Linked DNA regions of Homo sapiens: region 1 is linked to region 2. Evidence: fine-mapped expression QTL. A gene starts in region 2. The other region holds a variant in brackets. All regions are shown on one strand. Distances are between the middles of the regions. Region 1 has its middle 24 kb from the start of MIR8060. Region 2 holds the start of EPHA6 (EPH receptor A6).

Region 1 (9,720 bases), 480 kb before region 2:
AGGGGGTTTTAGGAGCTCTGTGACAGAAACCTAGGACGAAGACCAAATACATTTTATATTTCATATTGTACCACACAGACACTTCCATCACCCCCAGCAGTCTGCGTATTTCCTTTGCTCACTTACCCTCAATTCCTTGTAAATGGGTCATGGTGTGTCCTGCTTCTTGTAGAAATGTGATATTTTCCAGAAGTTTTTAAATTTTAGCCTTTATGTTAATAGTGATGCTCAATTCCAAGTTAATTTTTGTGTTTATAGTGAGGTTAAGGTCAACATTTAATTTTTTTCCATATTGGTAGCTATTGTTCTTGCAACATCTGTTGAAAAGACTAGCCTTTGTCCTGGGTATTTTATCAAAACTCAGTTGTGTATGTTTAATTTTTTACACCAATTCTCTTTTTTTAAATCTGTTTGTCTATCATTACACATTACACCAATACCAGGTAGTTATGAATAGTTGAATATTATATTGTTATAGGTAGTTAGGCATAAGTAGGCCAGGAGAGGGCTCTCCCTCACCAGATAGAAATGTAGGGTGACGGTTTGGCAATTTTCACATTGCCTCTCTAAAACTGATAAATTGGCAGCTGGCACCAGGGAGAGGCCATTTCCTGATGGTCCATACTTGTTGCACAAAAGTGTTAATTAAATGCAGGTGCCAAGGAGAAGTAACTTCTTGGGCATACACATTAAGAGACAAAATGGTGGAGTATGACCTTCTGGAGACACGAGTGGAAAAGGGAAGAAAGCCTCAGGTGGACATGTGTAAAACTTCCTAAACACACTGCACATGCTCACATCCCAAGGTTAAGGAGGGCACTGCCCATGTGGGGAGCCCACTCTAAGGGAATAATCATGGGAAAGGGACCAGCCTGTAAAGCCCTAGGATCAAGGTTAAACACCACACTTGACCTTCACGTGCCCACTTGGGTTTCTTCCAAGTGTACTTTCCTTTTTTTCCTGTTATACAGCCTTTTTAAATACACTTCCACTCCAGCTCTGAAACTTGCCTTGTTCTCTTTTTCTGCCTTATGCCTCTCAGTCGAATTCTTTCTTCTGAGAAGGCAAGAATTGAGTTTGCTGCAGACCCATACAATTGGCCACTGGTAACTCGGATACCTGCCACTGGTAACATATGTGGTGCTGTGAGGCTCAGATATTTGCCACCCCTAACAATAGTAAGATTGAACTCAAAGAATGTGAGGCCGGGTGCGGTGGCTCACGCTTGTAATCCTAGCACTTTGGGAGGCCAAAGTGGGCTGATAACTTGATGTCAGGAGTTCCAGACCAGCCTGGCAAACATGGTGAAGCCCCGTCTCTACTAAAAATACAAAAATTAGCCAGGCGTGGTGGTGGGCACCTGTAATTCCAGCTACTTCGGAGGTTTAGGCAGGAGAATCACTTGAACCTGGGAGGTGGATATTGCAGTGAGCTGAGATCACGCCACTGCACTCCAGCCTGGGTGACAAAGCGAGACTCCATCTCAAAAGAAAAAAAAAAAAAAAAGAATATGAGACTCACATTAGTGTCAAACATGTTTGGTTCTTTCTAAGTCTAAAATTCTATGATTTCATTATTTCATTAATTCAACTAAAATTATGGAATGTTTACTTTGTACTAGCTACTTTGTTCCAAAATGAAAATGAAAACAAGAAAATGTATTTCTCAGGACTTCGGAGTCTAAATATAAAACTACAAACTGTTAAAATAGAAATGAATACCAAATATTATATAATAGAAAATAGAAAATGTAGGAATTAAATTTGCCTATGTACGTCAGAATGGCTTAAAAGACTACTCTTATAGTGGGATTTTCTTTCTCTTTCTGAGACAGAGTAAAGACAGAACTCAGCCCCTCCCTATACCCCACCAAGGACGTCTACTGCAAGCTAATTTGGTGGAGCAGGCATGGCCAGCAGGGACCCCACCGGACTGTCCAGACCTTGCACCATAAACCTTACTCAAGGTACCTAACTGACCAACTGTGTCACCATGAGGAGACTAAAATTAGCAGCTTTTGCCATAAATCTTACTAAAGGGAATTAAAACGTGGAGACCCACTATAAGTTTTACCCGCTGAAGATAACCATATTACCCATACGCTCAGAAGATCAAAATAATGATCAGTCTTTGCCCTTTGCCTCACTGTAATATCAAAAATCACAGCCAGGGGTGGAGATTTAACATGCTAATGAGACATGCAATACATGAAGAAGCATGTTATCAGACTGCCCAGATACCAGACGTTCCCCACCTCTAAATGCTTACATGTCACTTCCTTCCCATTTTAGCTCCTTTAAAATTACTCTCCTGACTCTCTTCAGAGAGGCAGGCAGAGAATTTTCTCTCTCTTATGCCTGGGCATAGAATCAAATAAAGTTTTGCTGGGAAAACTCCTTTGGCCTTCTGTCAATTTCTATTGCATTGATAGCACAAGAATCTGTGTTTGGTAATATATTAATTGGGGGCTCATATGAGATCATGGGACACGGAGCGCCCTTTCTCCCATGATGGGGGAGATTCGTGGGCTAAAAGGACTGCTGGACAAGATCACTACACAGCTAGTGAGACGCCCCCTGAATCTTTGATTCAGTGTCACCACAGCTGGTGAGTCTTTCTTCAACCTCCAGAGCTCCTTGCCACCTCCACTGAGCCATGCTCTTTTCCCTTCCCTTCCTCTCTCTTTACTCTCTTTTCCCTTTCCTATCTTTTCTGCCACTCAGGGTGCCCCTCCTCTCTTCCTCACTTCTTAACACAGAAAGTTGGATCTAAATGGACATCCATATGAGACAAGTTGAAACAGTCAACTCAGTTTTACCAGTCTGGGACACTTGAATATATATTTATAAAGGACAGATTGAAACAGCTGATCTGAGTATAATCAACCCAGTTGTCAGTGAGATGGGTTTCACTTCATCCTTCACATTAGTTGATTTGGGTTTGAGTCCCAGGAAATATATATCTCTCTCTCCCTTTTTTTTTCTCTCCTTATGTACCTAGATTTTGATTTTGTATCTTTGTGTAAAACTCATCATTAATGCTTTGCTTCTCTTTGCCACACTTCTGGCCTTCAGGAAGGCACCAGGCACATCTGAGTGTGACAGTAATTATTGGTTTTCTGCACAATAAAAAAAGTTCAGAATGCTAATAATCTGTAACTACAGATTTAAGTCAAGTCGTCTAACATTCTCTATCTCCCCCTATTTCTTTTCTGCCTGCTTTGCATCTGCTATTGTTAAGCTGCTGGTGATGAGATAAGACTCAATGTTTATGGTTTAACTGAAATGTAAACTTTTAAAAAACTTGTTTAAAACTAAAGAAAAAAAGAGGTAAAAGAGAGTTTTAAAACTAAACTACCATACAGGCTACTTTATCCAAATTTGGTACACAGCTTTCCTTAGATTACTTATCAGGACAGGAAAAGTTTAGCCATATGAACAGGTTACAATTTTGTTAGAAAAATAATTTGAATCCAGCTATATTTTATAAAATGGTGAGTTCATATTGCTGTCTTTTATAAAATGACTAGAATTCCAAGGTAAAAGCTATTGAATCTTTGTTTATGTGTATGTCCACATGTTTAGATGTGTTTATGTACATATATTATGATATATGTTTTGTCTAGCAGAATACCAAATTGGCTTATAAGTAAATGAGTACTCGCAACTTAAATCCATTGCTCTTTCGTTTCATATGACTTCAACAATTGTTGATAAATACAGACAATTTTAAAGATTTTTGGTAAAATAAAATTTAAAACTTCTTCACTATTTAGCCTTGGTCTAAATTAAGCAGGTCAGAAACTTCGTTCACAAGGTGCTTTAAGGTCATAAACTGATTCTATGACATTTTTGATAATTGTTTCACTTGTCTGTTTTACAGCTATTAGAATCTAGGTAAGGCCTGGAGACATGTGAAGTTAGCTATGTGCCCTGGCTAGGCTGGGAAGACTCAGATACTGTCTGCAGCTCTGTCCTTGTTCTGGGCTCTGCAATCTGATACATGGTTAAAATTTTTACTAACCAAGTTTTTCACTAAAATTAAAAGTTGTTAAGAGATAATATTGTAACATTTCTAAGTGAGACTACTGGAAAAACAGTTTTACATGTAAAGTATGTAAAGTAAAAAGTGTTTTTTTAATAAAAGGTCACAAAAAGGTATTGAAATATGGCTTTTGTTATAGGAAAAATAATTTTCTTGAATTTAGAGGCTTATACAGATCATCCTAAATTCAAAGAATAATACTACAGAACTAAAGTTTTAGCAGGTTATAAAAGATGTATAAAAGTTTAATCTTATAAGGAAAGTTAGGTGTGGAAGAAAGCTAGCCAAAATTTGAAGGGGATTTTTTAGGTTA[T/C]TTTTTTCTGTCTTTATTAGGTCTTGTTATTTGGAAAGCTGAGTCACCCTTGTATAAATAACTAAAGGATTTCACTTTTTTGAAATGTTTGAGTTAGCACTTTGGCTAAATAAATAACCTGAGATCCTATTTTGTGATGTTGAGTGTTTTAAACCTTTGATATTTGACAAAATTTCTAAAATCAAGTCAAAAAGAGACATTTGGCTTATATAACATATTAAAATTATACAAGAAACATTGTCAAGTGTAAAATAAATGTTTGGCTTTGATGGAGGAATGTTTGAATAAAAGTATTATTAATATGTGTTCCAGAATTCCACAGGACTCCGTTATTTTGGATATGTCTCAATTATAATATTTTCAGTAATATTTATGTTTACGTTAAATTGTTGTATATCATAAAATAACCAAATTTTATTTTCAGTTGTGTCATTAACCATGGTTGTTCTGAAATTTTTGTCATCTGCAATTGTTGTTTTACTTTTTGATCCTTCTCAGAAAGTGGTTTTATAATCAGCTGTAGGTCTCTGACAGTTGCTCTTGAATGCAGGTTTCTAATAACTAGAGATTGGGCCATTAGGATAGAGCAAAAAACTTCAAAGTCCCTCTTGAAGCACTAATATGTTTCTAAATATTGATTAAAACAAGAGTTACCTGCATGAACTAAACTAATAGAAGTTTTAAAAAAAACTTCTTATGACTGTGTTTTCTCTAATTGCTATTGCTTTTTTTGTTTTGTTTTTCAGAGCCAAAACACTTTTTTTTTAGTTTTTTTTTACAGCTTTCAACAATAGAGGAAAATATACTCCTAGAAGCAAAATTTAGAACATACTTCTTTATCTCTACCAAATTTCTCCAGAATATAAAAACTATTTTTGTGTATTCTTAACTTATGTCAATACAGTTTTTAGCATAAGTGAAATAAGAATCAATTTTCTTTTCTAACAAGACACATTTAGAGACTTGTGTTTTTACCAAAGCTTTAACTGCAATGGCATGCTTTATAAATTGAAGATGACTTATAGACCTGATAAAAACCCTTTGGAAAAACTGGCCTCATACCTTGAGTATATAGTCCTTGTACAGGATTTCCCACCTGTGGTAAGTAAAGAATGGCACTTTCTAACAGGTCTAGAAACCCCAAGTTATATTGGGATCTCAACAGGACAGGCATTCACCCAATTCATACAGGTATTTGCAGGCACAGATAAATCTGTGGCTTGGCTCAAGGCTTGAAAACATCTAATCTGAGATCCCTTATGAAAATGAGTTTCAGCAAAGTGAAGTTGAAAAAAAAAACAAACAAAACAAAACAAAACAGAATGACTATAAATCTATATGTCAAATATTTTTTCTTGGTACACTTTATGCAAAGAAGCAAGGCCACTATAATAACATTAAAACTTATTTTGCAAACAAATTGGTCCTATTAGTTTTGTCTAAAAATGGGAAACTGGAGAGAGAAAAATAATGTTTCAAAAAACACTATAATAAAACTGTTCTTAGATTTCAGCCTTTTCCATTGTTTTTGAGTTTTTTGAATTTTTTCTATAATTTAGACTACATCTCAAGTTATTTCTGGGCTACCAGTCTCCTAACTTACATTTCCAAGTTTTTCTGCAGACCAAAATAACACTAATGGCTGAAGCTTATTTCTTATAATAGAGGTGAGCCCATGGAGGACCTCAAGTACCTGTTCAAGAAGGCCAGTTTACAGACAAATATATTACCTGTCTCTAAGTCTGATGATTTTCCTGATGATATTGATTGCCTTGCGGATATTTTGTGACTTTTCTTAGCCCACTCCCCTGGACAAAAATTTCCTTTGTCCTTGTTGGGTATAGGGAAATAGACCATGCTGCTCAGCAAGGCTGTAATCCCTTTCCTTCCTTGACTGTTAGAAGGGAAAATGATAGCAGTTTAATGCCTTGATCCCAACAATACTGGCAGTGATTGGGCTGTGATATATATTGCACCACCCCACCAAAAAATCAAAGTATTCTCCAATAGCCTTGATAGTACGTATCGGCCAACAAGAAAGTCAAAGCAAGCAGTTGGTATTCTAATTAATGAAATAGTAACCTTAATTGATTCCTTGATAGGACTAGCCAGGGAAATAGTTTACAACAATACCGTCACACAAAATGTTACAGTCATTATATCCACAGTGGCAGCTGGAATGGGACAGAATGTTAAGCTCATACAAAAGTTGTTAGACTCCCTGGCTTCAATGATCCTAGACCATCAATTAACCTTTGATTACTTACTGACTAAAAAAAGAGAATTATGTGCTATTACAAATATATCCTATTATTTCTACATTAATGTTACTGGAGAAATAGAACAAAGGACAGGACTCATCCTCCAACAGGCTACATGGCTATTGTTATGGGTTGGCTGTGTCTCCACCCAAATCTCATCTTGAATGGTAGCTTCCATAATTCCTACATGTGTGGGAAGGACCCAGTGGGAGACAACTGAATCATGGGAACAGTTCCTTCCCTACTGTTCTCTTGGTAGTGAATAAGTCTCAGGAGATCTGAAGGTTTTATAAGGGGAAACCTCTTTCCCTTGGTTCTCCTTCTTTCTGGTCTGTCACCACGGAAGGCATGCCTTTACCTTCCACCATGATTTTGAGGCCTCCCCAGCCACGTGGAACTGTGAGTCCATTAAACTTTTTTGTTTATAAATTACCCAGTCTTGTGTATGTCTTTATCAGCATGTGAAAATGAACTAATACAGTAAATTGGTACCAATAGAGTAGAGCACTGCTGTTAAGATACCTGAAAATGTGGAAGTGGCTTTGGAACTGGGTAAAAGGCAGAGATTAGAGCAGTTTGGAGGGCTCAGAAGAAAACAGAAAAATGAGGGACAGTTTGGAATTTCCTAGAGACTTGTTGAATGCCTTTGACCAAAACACTGATAACAGTATGGACAATGAAAACACGTCCAAAGTAGTCTCAGATGGAGATGAGGAACTTGTTGGGAACGAGAATAAAGTTGACTCTTGTTATGTTTTAGCAAAGCGACTGGTGGCATTTTGCCCCTGCTCTAGAAATTTGTAGAACTTTGACTTGAGGGAGATGATTTATCTGGTTATCTGGCAGAAGAAATTACTAAATTTCTAAATTTCTAAGCAGCAAAACATTCAAGAGGTGTCTTTGGTGCTGTTAAAAGCATTCAGTTTTAAAACGCAAACAGCATAAAGGTTTGGAAAATTTGTAACCTGATGATGCCATTGAAAAGAAAAACCCATTTTCTGGGGAGAAACTGAAGCCGGCAACAGAAACGAGCAAAGTAATGAGGAGCCAAAAGTTAATCACCAAGACAATGGGAAAAAAATGTCCCCAGGACATGTCAGAGAGCTTTTTGGCAGCTCCTCCCATCACAGGCTAAGAGACCAAGGAGAAAAAATGGTTTCTTGGGCCAGGTCCAGGGCCTCACTGCTATGTGCAGCCTAGGGACTTGGTGCCCTGCATCCTAGCCACTCTAGCCATGGCTAAAAGGGGCCAAGGTACAGCTCGGTCTGTGGCTTCAGAGGGTGCAAGCCCCAAGCCTTGAAAGCTTCCACATGGTGTTGAGCCTGTGAGTGCATAGAAGTCAAGAACTGAGGTTTGGGATCATCCACTTAGATTTCAGAGGATGTGTGGAAATGCCTGGATGTCCAGGAAGAAGTTTGCTGCAGAGACAGGACCCTAATGGAGAACCTCTGACAGGCCAGTGCAGAGGGGAAATGTGGGGTTGGAGCCTCCATACAGAGTCCCAGCTGGGGCACTGCCTAGTGGAGCTGTCAGAAGAGGGCCACCATCCTCCAGATCCCAGAATGGTAGATCCACCTACAGGTTGCACTGTGCACCTGGAAAAGCCACAGACACTCAATGCCAGTGCAAGAAAGCAGCCAACATGGGGCTGTACCCTGCAAGCCACAGGGGCGGAGCTGCCTAAGACCATGGGAACCTACCTCTTGCATCAGCGTGAACTGGATATGAGACATGTAGTCAAAGGAGATCATTTTGGAGCTTTAAGATTTGACTGCCTGCTGGATTTTGGATTTGCATGGGGCCTGTAGCCCCTTTGTTTTGGCAAATTTCTCCCATTCAGAATGGCTGTATTTACCAAATGCCTGTATCTCCATTGTGTCTAGGAAGTAACTAACTTGTTTTTGACTTTACAGGCTCATAGGTAGAAGGGACTTGCCTTGTCTCAGATGAAACTTTGGACTGTGGACTTTTGAGTTAATGCTGAAATGAGTTAAGACTTTGGAGGACTGTTGGGAAGGCATGATTGGTTTTGAAATGTGAGGACATGAGATCTGGGAGGGGCCAGAGGTGGAATAACATGGTTTGGCTGTGTCCCTATCCAAATCTCATCTTGAATATCAGCTCCCGTAATTCCCACATGTAGTGGAAGAGACCCAACCCAGTGGGAGGTAATTGAATCATGGGGGCAGTTTTCTCCCTACTGTTCTCCTGGTAGTGAATAAGTCTTACGAGAGCTGATGGTTTTATAAGGAGAAACACTTTTCACTTGGTTCTCATTGTCTCTTGTCTGGCACTGTATGAGACATGGCTTTCACCTACCACCATGACTGTGAGGCCTCCCCAGCCATCTGGAACTGTGAGTCCATTAAACCTCTTTTTGTTCATAAATTACCCAATCTTGGGTATGTCTTTATCTGTGGTAAGAAAATGGACTAATACAGCTATATAATTTTAATAACCCCTCTGCTAAAACCATCTGGGACTCTATTAAAAAATCTACCAAGCATTAGTGGTTCCTGCCTTTTCTGGGACCAGTGATAATCATTTTATTATTATTTTTTTTGGCTCCTGTCTTTTTACCTTTTGGTAAAGTTTATATCTTCCAAGCTCCAATGGTTCCACATATAGCTGATGAAGTCACAAGCATTTCAACTCATACCATCCCAAGGGGAGTCTAGTCACTATAAATCAATAGATCAGTCAGTAAGGCATTTGCAGAACTTTCAAATTTAGTCAGGGTCGATAGCTTGGCTCACCAAGAAACAACTCCAGAAAATGAAACCTCTGATTCTTTTCCTTAAGAATAAGGAACATAAAATCTCTCAGGGGGAAATGAGACAGATGAGGCATGGGACTCATTCCCCAACCTTTTGCCTTACTGAAGACTTCTAATGCAAGCTGATGGTCGGGTGGGGCATGGGCAGCAGGCACCCCAACCAGATCATTCAGACCCTGCATCATAAATCTTAAGGCTCCTTACCCATTGATTGTAGGACCTTGAAGAGACCAAAATTGGCAGCTTCCATCATAAATCTTACTCAAGGGAGTAAAAGGCAGAGTCCTATCACAAATTTTACCCAAGGGGGATAACTCTATCTGCCA
Region 2 (9,711 bases):
AATAATTTGGAACTCCACTGTAGGAACACAGAGATTGATTTTAATTGGAATAGTTTTTTTTTGTTTTTTGTACTGTAATGTAATATAAACTTCTGAGAGGTAAGAACTAAATCCAAGTAATCTTTGTACTTTCTTTACGATGCTCAGCACAAATGGATGTGAAAATCTTGCTTGGCAAACGGTTACTGAATTAGAAAAGTACTAGAGAGAATGTTTTTATTGAATTTCATGCACACACATAGGTAATATGATATGTATATGACATATGTGCATATATTTTTCTTTCACTGAATGTAACACAAGAACCAAAATTCAATTATCACAGCAGAATCAACAATAGTACATTTTATGTAACTTCAAGTTGCATTTTTTTCTGTAAGGTTTCTAAGATATGATATGCTTAGAATTCACTGCTTTGAATGTTCTTTTCCAGAAAATTATTATCTACTTCCTAACACCAAAGCAAAATTTCTGAAGTAAACAATGTGTATGTTTTCCCCTAATTACATACTTCCTAAACGCAAAGAGACTCAAATTAACTATATTTGACATTGTGGATTTTATTTTTATTTTAGCGGTTTCAATGCTGAAACACATAGAATACAATCTTGTAACTAACATATTTTAAAGTTGATGGCATGAATATGATAATATTATTGCCTACAGCATGTCTTTACATTTTATATTATCAAAAAAGATTTATGCAATTTGTTCTTTTCAAAGTACATACCTAATCTTTTAAGACCTGATATTTTGTCATATTTGAGGATCAACATTCTTTTTATTTATGTTTTTTCTACCTTGACCTTAGAGAATGCAAATTGCTGCTGTGAATGGATTAATTTACTCTTTTACCAGAATAATATACTTAAGACTTTCTCAAGTCTTGAAACATGCTGAGTATTAAACATTATAATCCTTCTTTTTTTCTCAAAGGAAGTAATTGCAGGTTAAGTCTCTCCTCTTTTAATCATTTTAAAAAGCAAATAATATTTATGAATACTATTATTTCTACTATAAATAAAAGCACACCAGTTTTTAATGTCATATATCCTTTATTTAATAAAAAATTTCATCATTTCTTACCTGAATCCAGACCACATATATCGTGAAGAACAATAGTCTGAGAGAATACAGAAGAATTCTGAACAATATAGTTCTGAAAAATGAGACATGAATGCTTTTCTGAGTATGGGTATGATTCAAACAGACAAGTGCAGATAAATCTACATGAATATTGCATCTGGTTCATTGAGTAGCTTATAATTTTGAAACTGTCACATGTCAGCAAATATATCAACACTGCTAGAAAATCAAAAAGGAAGTACATTTCTAAGTGTAATTGCATCTAGCTTACATAGATAACCATGATTATATTTTAAATAAAATGTTAGCTTAATAAAAGAAATTATTGTTACACAAAGTAGTTTACCATTAACTCTTCCCTGAGTGAAGAGAATTTAGCACATAAAAAGAACTAAACAAATATTTTAGAGAGACATGCACATATATATTTGTGCATCTTTGTGTGTGTATATATATATATATATCACATATATATATAAACATATAAATGGTCAAACGGTCATGGTAATTCTTTTTTACAATCATGTTTTAACATTAATAATCATGTCAAACTCATGGAATCTTGCTATTGTCAAAGGCAATGATAATCATATTTTAACTCATTTTTTAGATGAGTTTTTACTTAAGATGTCATTATCTTCTAGGCATGCAATAGATAGCATCCAAACATACGTAAACATGTGAAGTATGTTTTAATATTGAGAAAAATCTTGTAATATTTTTTTCTTAAAAGCCAAGACAAGAATATGACTATCAATTATCTAACCAGATATATATGTCAAGCTTGACTTTGGCTCATTTAAACAAATACAAATTATGAACTGTAGCTGAATTGTAAGTACAGTGCATGGGGGGACTAGAAATTCAGGTTAATTAAGCGGATTATTGTTACTTTGAAGTAACAGGTTATGTTTCAGGCACTGTGCTATGATTTCTAACTAAGCGTGAATCCTAGAAATGAATCTAAGTTTTCCTCTCTATTTCTTTCTCCTTTTTTTTTTCTGCCTTTTCCCCTTCCTTCCACTAAAAGTACTGCCTTCTAGTCTAATTTTAAGTGAAACTTCTTGGTGTTTTATAACATATTCTCTAAAATGCAACACTCAAGTAAAACATCAGAACTTGATTTTAAACTTTGATTTTAAAATATTTTATGTTAGGAATTATACTGAAATAACTTCTTTTTGGTGATGTTCCATTAAAAATGTTTCCCTTGCAAGTCTAGTTAATTTCAAAAGTAAAAGTATAGAAATAGATTCACATGGTTTATATTTTTAAAATAATAATATTATACATTCCTTCAATTTATAAGGACTTTCTTGAACGATTTTTCTTTTAGTGAATTATTAATGAAGTTTATAGATTTACTGTAAGCCAACATTTAAAAATGAAAATTTAATTATAAAAGGTCATGGAAACATATTTTTGACAGTATATAAAAAGAGATTTTGAATAAAATTATCAGATAATGAATCATTAGAAATTTCTAAGAACATTATTTAGACACAATGATTTATATTATAATGGTGATAATGTAGTCTTTTTATTTTGTAACTGAGTTTATAAACTCTAAAATGAGTTTGCAAATGCTCATGTGGTCAATCAATATCAGTAAGAGTGGCAAAATGAGTATCAAAGTCAGATTTTACTCTTAAGTGCCGATATATAAACTCCACACATGGTATCTTTTTAGAAATGATTTGCATACATTTAAGTTGGTGTGGACACACCTTCAAAGAGAGGCAGAGGTGTATGAATTCCTAATGAGAATGAGAGTATAGTCACCAATCAGAACCCTTCCTCACATTCTCCAAATCGCTTGTATTTCACCATTTCTCTCCACGCAGCAGAATTTTTGACATGGGACATTTCTTGCTCTCATTCTTTCTTTCCTTCCAATTTACTGTAAGGCATTAAGTGAAACTTCTTCAGCTATGGTGTGTGGCACAAAAACATCGCAGCGCAGGAATGCATGGAATAGAAGGGTCCTTTCCCTTCCAGAACTCTGTAAGCGTCAAACGCCGACCCTTGGCTCCATCTCCCGCTCCCCTGACCTCTTGTCACTGTGCCATTTCCCTCCTGTGCTTTCTGCCCACTTGGAAAATATCGTATATCCTTTACAAGACCGCTACTTTCTCTCCTCTGTTCACATTTCTCCATTACCATCCACATTTTCTCAAAACATTCCGACGGGTTTTGAAGTGGGGTTTTCAACCTCCCTCGACTGTGATAGCCGAAGTCCCTTCAAGAAAGAAAAATGATGTTGGAAATACTAGTAACAAATAAAGTATCACGGAAATCCCCACCCAAGCGATACGGTTTCCTTGACGCGCCCTTAACCAAGGCGTTAAGTTTAGCCTGACAGCATCCCTCCCTCCTTTCGGTTCCTGGCCTGATGAGCCGCCTCCACCTGCGAGCGGTGCAGGCATTTTTGTTGTCGACTAACCCCCTCTAGCGCCGAACTGGCGGCATCCGAGCCGCGGCTGCCAGGCCGGGAGAAGGCTGGGCTTGGCCGGGCTCTGCAGCGCTCCGGGCTCCGTCCCTGCCCTGGGCGCCCGCCTCCGCCGCGGGGCGAGGTGGTGGAGACCGCGGACGCCGAGGGTCCTCCCAGTCAGCACGCCGCGTTGCCCCGGCCCTGGGGCGGGGGCCGCGGAGTCCCACCAAGTGGCCCGCGCCTCGGCTTCCGGGAGACCCGAGCGCGGGGAGGGAGTGGGTGCCGCGAGGGGGCGGCTCGCGCGGGGAGAGCCGTCAGCCCACGGCGCCCCTGCGCTGCTGTGGATGTGGCCACGCGCCACTCGGCCCTTGGACTGCTAGGAGAGCGCGGCCCGACGCCACCACGCCGTGGACGCTCGGGGACCCCTGAATCCCAGCGTCAAGGCTGCGACGATGCTCGTGACCTCCACCGCGAAGTCACCTCCGCAAGGCGACGCAAGGACCTCGGCGATCCCGGGCGCCGTACACCCGCCACTTTCCAGCCTCATGTAACCCCCCCTCTGCTGCTTCCTCCCGGCGCTTTGCTTTTCTACAACTGGAAGCCGCGAAGGCGGCTACTGCGCTGAGCCGCTCGCTCTGCTGGTCAAGTTTGGGCGACCCGCGCGGAGGAGGGTCGGGCTGACTGCCGCCGCTGAGCTGTCCCCGGACGGGAGCGCCTGTCCACGGCACTCACCCCCTCCAGCGGTGGAAATGTGGAGAAGTAAGTGGGAGGCGGTGTCGGGAACTGACTCCTCTTAAAACGGTCGGCGCCGCTGCTCTGAAATGGGCGGCTAAGTGCTTGTGGGACTAAGGGCGGCCTCAGAGATGCCCGGAAAATCGCTGCCACGGCCAGAGTGCGGCGCAGACGCGGCAGAGTTGGAGGTGTCCGCGGTGCAGGCTGCTGCCCACGCCGCTCAGGCCAGGTGCTGAGGGCTCAGCCCGCGCCTCGGCCGAACCACTCTCAGCCCCGTTGAGCCACCTCGTCCGCCCGGCTTTCATCGCACCGGCCAGAGGAAAGTTCCCGCGGCCCCCACGCCTCTTCACAGCTGCAGCGCCTCCCCTGCTTTTGGCTCCGCAAGTGCCCACTTGAGTCGGGAGAGGTCCTCGGGCCGCCCCAACTGCCCGCCCCACCTGGCAGTCCGTCCCCGCCCCCGTCCTCGCGGTGAGGCGCTCCCCGCCCCCTCGCTCCCCTCCCCCAAACCACAGCCCGAGCTCGCTCTTGCGCGCGCGCGCTCTCTCCGGCCCAAGTGAATAGTCCTCGCGCAAGCGGGACACTGTGGTGGATGCAATTCCCCTCGCCTCCAGCCGCGAGGAGCTCCCCGGCGCCGCAGGCAGCGTCCTCCTCCGAAGCAGCTGCACCTGCAACTGGGCAGCCTGGACCCTCGTGCCCTGTTCCCGGGACCTCGCGCAGGGGGCGCCCCGGGACACCCCCTGCGGGCCGGGTGGAGGAGGAAGAGGAGGAGGAGGAAGAAGACGTGGACAAGGACCCCCATCCTACCCAGAACACCTGCCTGCGCTGCCGCCACTTCTCTTTAAGGGAGAGGAAAAGAGAGCCTAGGAGAACCATGGGGGGCTGCGAAGTCCGGGAATTTCTTTTGCAATTTGGTTTCTTCTTGCCTCTGCTGACAGCGTGGCCAGGCGACTGCAGTCACGTCTCCAACAACCAAGGTAAGGGACGGGGCGGAGGAGCGGGAGTGGGTGGGAGGAGGAGGGTGCTTGGAGAACCAGGGTACTGGTTGCCTCCTGCAGGTAACTTTGTACAGGGGTCAGAGTCTCCTGGCTCGCCACACGAGGGGATCGAGGATGTCCCCTTACCCTAGCGCCCTGTTTACACCGCCCGGGACGGTGACTCCACAGGCTAGGATCCGTTGTGTTTCTAAATGTCTTTAAACGGTAGCGTGAGCATCAGCTGCAGTTGGGTCCCACCGCTAGCGGCCGTGGGACCGCTCCCCGCTGCGCTGTCTCCACTGGAAGTCAGGCTCCGTGGCACAGACTTAATGGAGACTTCTGGCTCTTTGGTGGTCGCTCTTCTCAGGGGAACGTGTGGTTCTCCCACATGCCTTCTTGAAAGGCAGGGTGCTCCCGCTGTACCCCGTGACCAGTTATCAGTCTTTCCCCACCCCTCCGGTGACTGCCGCCCTCGCCCAGCCTCAGTCCCCATGCTTCATCTACCATCCAGGCCACCGAAGTAGACTTACTCGAAATTCTTCCTAGACCAGATGCTCCAGATCTGTGTAGGGGTTTCATATTCTTGCGGGCAGGGAGTAGAAAAGGGTTTAGGGTGAATTTCCAAGTTGTGAATACCCTATTCATGAAGTCAAGTCACTGACAGATTGCTTGGAGGACTTTGTTTCGGTGGGTAAAGTGGTAAAGTGAAGGTAAATAGTGGTTAAAAAGTGATGGAAAGCCCTTGGAATATTTGAGCATTTTCCCTTTTTCTATTCATACAATCTTCATGAAATATATCTCCTTGTATTTCTGCTGTGCATAAAGATCTATAAAAAGTACCACCTGCATATTCTAAGTCCTTTCAGACTAAGCATGAAACAACCATAAAAGTTTCCCAGCATGTATCTGGCTAGATATTCTCTCACTCGTGCTGTAATGACCAACCGATATGTCCCTTCAAATATTATGTGTGGTAGTCAGTTATAGTTATCATTTAACACATAAGGCATATGTTTCAGAGTCTCGAAGTAATTTGCAGGTATAAAAATGGAGGTCAGATGGCTTGAAAGTGTTCACTTTTTGTGTGAGGAGAAGGTTAAGGGAGAAGATAAACAACACAGCATTCTTCTTTGTCATCAACATATATGGCCATTTTACTTAGAAATGTTCAGAATCAGAATAAAATATAATTATTAAATTGTTCTCATTTATACAGTGGTACTTTGGCATATTTTCCTAATTATTACAGTTATTTTAAACTGACAGAATGCAATCACAAATGTGTAGGTGAATTTGGAAACCATACATAACCTTCATGGCTTTGAAGATAGATCACATAATAGATATCAGTTACAGTGTCCTGTTTTGCTGTGGTGGTATATACCATCACACTACATCCCTCATTTATTTTCAAAGACTGTGGGTATAAAATATTGAATAGGTAGTTAACTTCATTTCTGTGAAGGTAGAAGATTGTTAAAAAACGTGTAACGATTACCCTTTTTTATTATGACAAAACAATTTTTAATAATTGGAAAGTCAGACATTGATACTGTACTTTATAATAGTAAGTAAGGATACTAGAGATGAATACTTTGAGAGTCAAGTGTACTAGAAGTTTGTAACAGTTGTTCCCATGCAATAATTTCCCCAAACAATGTTTATTTATTTAAATACCTATGATGCATCAGTAACTACCCTAGGCCCAGGGGATACTAACATAAATAAAACAGATATCTGAATCTACAAATGACCCTAAAGTGCCATTCTGCCAAAATATGTCCTGTTAAAGCATGACCTTTCAGACATTCATAGTAAATTTAAAAGCATCGAGATGTTATTTATTAACCTCTTCCAGTAATTTTTATTTGCTTATCTATTTTAATGACTTTCTCATAGTATTTACAGATGTTTGACCTAGAATATATGCCAAACATATGTAATTTATTTATTTTTATTAATTAGCTAAACTTAGTGAATGAGTATTATCCAATTTTCCCATCAGTTAAATAGAAGCATTAAAGATTGTCTACTTAAACTCTTAATTTGAATTTGTATTGATATACCGATAACACAGGCTGTGCATAAGAGTACAGTGGGCAAAATAGTACCTGAAGGTTAAATTGGATAAAATTTAGGTGACTTCTTCAAAAGAACATTATAATCAGAATTTTTATCAGACACAAATTATTACTTATAAAATGATGCTTTTTACAGCCTAAAGTCATAGTGAGTAGAAATTTTTCCTGATAATAAGTTGAGATAACTTTCAAATATTGAAATCATCACACTAATGGTTAATAAAATGCTAGGTTTCTAAATGTTATTCTTAATAACATTTTAGGGATATTTTCCTTACTCGTAGTTTCATAATGGATAAAATAAAGCATCTATTTTTAAACATGGAAAATGGGACATTATAGAATTATCATATGTATTCAACATGGAAAGATAAATGTAAAATATAAATTTGATTTATTATACACATAAAAATAAACAGTAATATAATTCATATTTAGTATTGAGAAGATAGTTTTAATTGTCCAATAATTTTCACTTTAAAGGCTAATGGAATTAATGTTTTAATTTTGAAATTTGTTATTTTATAGAGGGTAAAATTACATTTATATGTAACTTCTTCCTGATTAAAGATATTCACAAAATAAAATTTTAATGTTATATATCTGTTTTACCAAATTATATGACATCCTTCATGGCTGAAAAGAATGGATTCACCTTTCCCACAACCCCCACCCCAATCCCCATTTTTCCATACATAAGCAAGGTAAAATGATGATGATAATGACAAAAAAGTAAACTACCTCATTCTTTTAACGTGGTGCAAACAGTAACTTGACTATAGAAAGGATCTCTTCTCTTGTCTTTTAACTGAGTGTGAAGCTGACTGTAAAGATGAAATAAATCAATTTGACTCTCTCTTCCTATGAACCAAACCTCCTTGAATCGATCAGAAAGTAAAGGTTCTTCCTAGATCACTTCATCTGATTAAGTAAGTGGAAACATGAATTGTGTTTAAATCTCTCTCATAGTCAATTAATTTTCCCTGTATTTAAAACCACAGTATTAATTAAGTGTTGGAAATTTTTATTTTAAAAACATTTCATCTTTTCAAGGAATATAGCCTTTCATTTCTGTACTATACACTTATATGAATATAAAACACAATCTTGCTTCATGTATAAGTTAACCATTTACCGTGTATCACAGTGGCCAGTAGACACCAGGGATCCATTCATTCAAAGATTATTCTGCAGCAAATACTACTTTATAGCCTAAATGAGTTGATGCATATCTAAGGGTGTGGCTCATGCTTTTACAAATAATCAATTGCATACTCAAATAATTCAATTAAGTCAAAGTATGGTATGGGTAAGTTAGTCTAGTGAACTTATTTTATTAGCAATACTTTGTGAATCGATTTTCCCCCCAGGCAATTCAGTGACAAACAAAATAAGCAAAACAATAGTGTGGCTGGTTGATTTCATTAAATTTATTAATTTGAGCGAATCAACTGCATAATCCACTGAGTTGTATATAAATACAAATAAATATATCTAAGCAGAAAAACATCTGCTTAACAAAATTCATGGCCTAAAATTAGTTTTATCCATATGTTTTATTCACAAACTCTGATTGAATATTGTTCTTATATTTATAGAAATGGAGACATTGAGGAAATTTTTAAAGATTTTTCAAAAGTAAACATTAAAATGCTGAAAATATTAAAAATTTTGTTAAATTAGGAACACTGGATTACTTAGAATGTTTCTGAAAGACCATTCATTTAGAAGAAATTAGTTTTTGAGGATAAACTATTTATAGTTGTAAGGGTTCCAGAGATTGTTATCACATCACTTCTTGTTAGACATAAGTATAAATACAACTTAGAATATAATTTTATTATACATTTACAATATAAAATAAGTAATTGTATAATTAGTCATTATTGATTAGCATCCAAAGTACAAAGATAAAATGTTTTTATGCAGTTCCAGCAGTGATCATCTAATTGTTGTTTGTTCTGGTCTTGGGATAATACTATATCTAAAAGAAAATTTCTTGCACAAAAATTATACATAATCCTTAAGGAACTCTTCTTCAAACAAAAAATAACTTAAATGAATATAGTTGAAGTTAATTTAGTATTCATGACTATAGCACTTTTATATGAATTTCCTAAGGGAAAAGTATATATCTATTGGTACAGGGGAAATTAATGATTAAATTACATCCTTTTACTTTTTTGTTACTTTTACATCACAAAATAAGTATTAAAAAATATTAGAGTAGAAAGCCTTTTGCTTCTTTGTTTCTTCACTAATCATTGTTAGTATAAATGACTTAAGTACAAAAGATATAAATTTCCCTCTACCAACCCTTTTTCCCTATCACAATTTCAGTAACTCTCTCTCTTTCTCTCTCCCACCTCACATACACAAATGCTTCTGACTGCATGCTCCATTTGTT

Evidence for each region.
Region 1: its variant is fine-mapped to the expression of EPHA6 in esophagus muscle (GTEx, PIP 0.95).

The regions. Positions count from the first base shown.
Region 1 is chr3:96,331,031-96,340,750 of GRCh38, forward strand. No RefSeq gene overlaps it. Among named protein-coding and RNA genes, the nearest start is that of MIR8060, 24 kb to the right of the region's middle. The variant T/C (reference allele first, on the strand shown) is at 4,358.
Region 2 is chr3:96,809,786-96,819,496 of GRCh38, forward strand. It overlaps EPHA6 (EPH receptor A6), which reads left to right and starts at 4,809. Exons shown (of 18, transcript NM_001080448.3): 1 at 4,809-5,223. The coding sequence starts at 4,839. It overlaps LOC124909397 (a long non-coding RNA gene), which reads right to left and starts at 4,622. Exons shown (of 2, transcript XR_007095974.1): 1 at 4,250-4,622; 2 at 1,036-3,325. RefSeq lists silencers at 3,645-3,714, 3,775-3,894.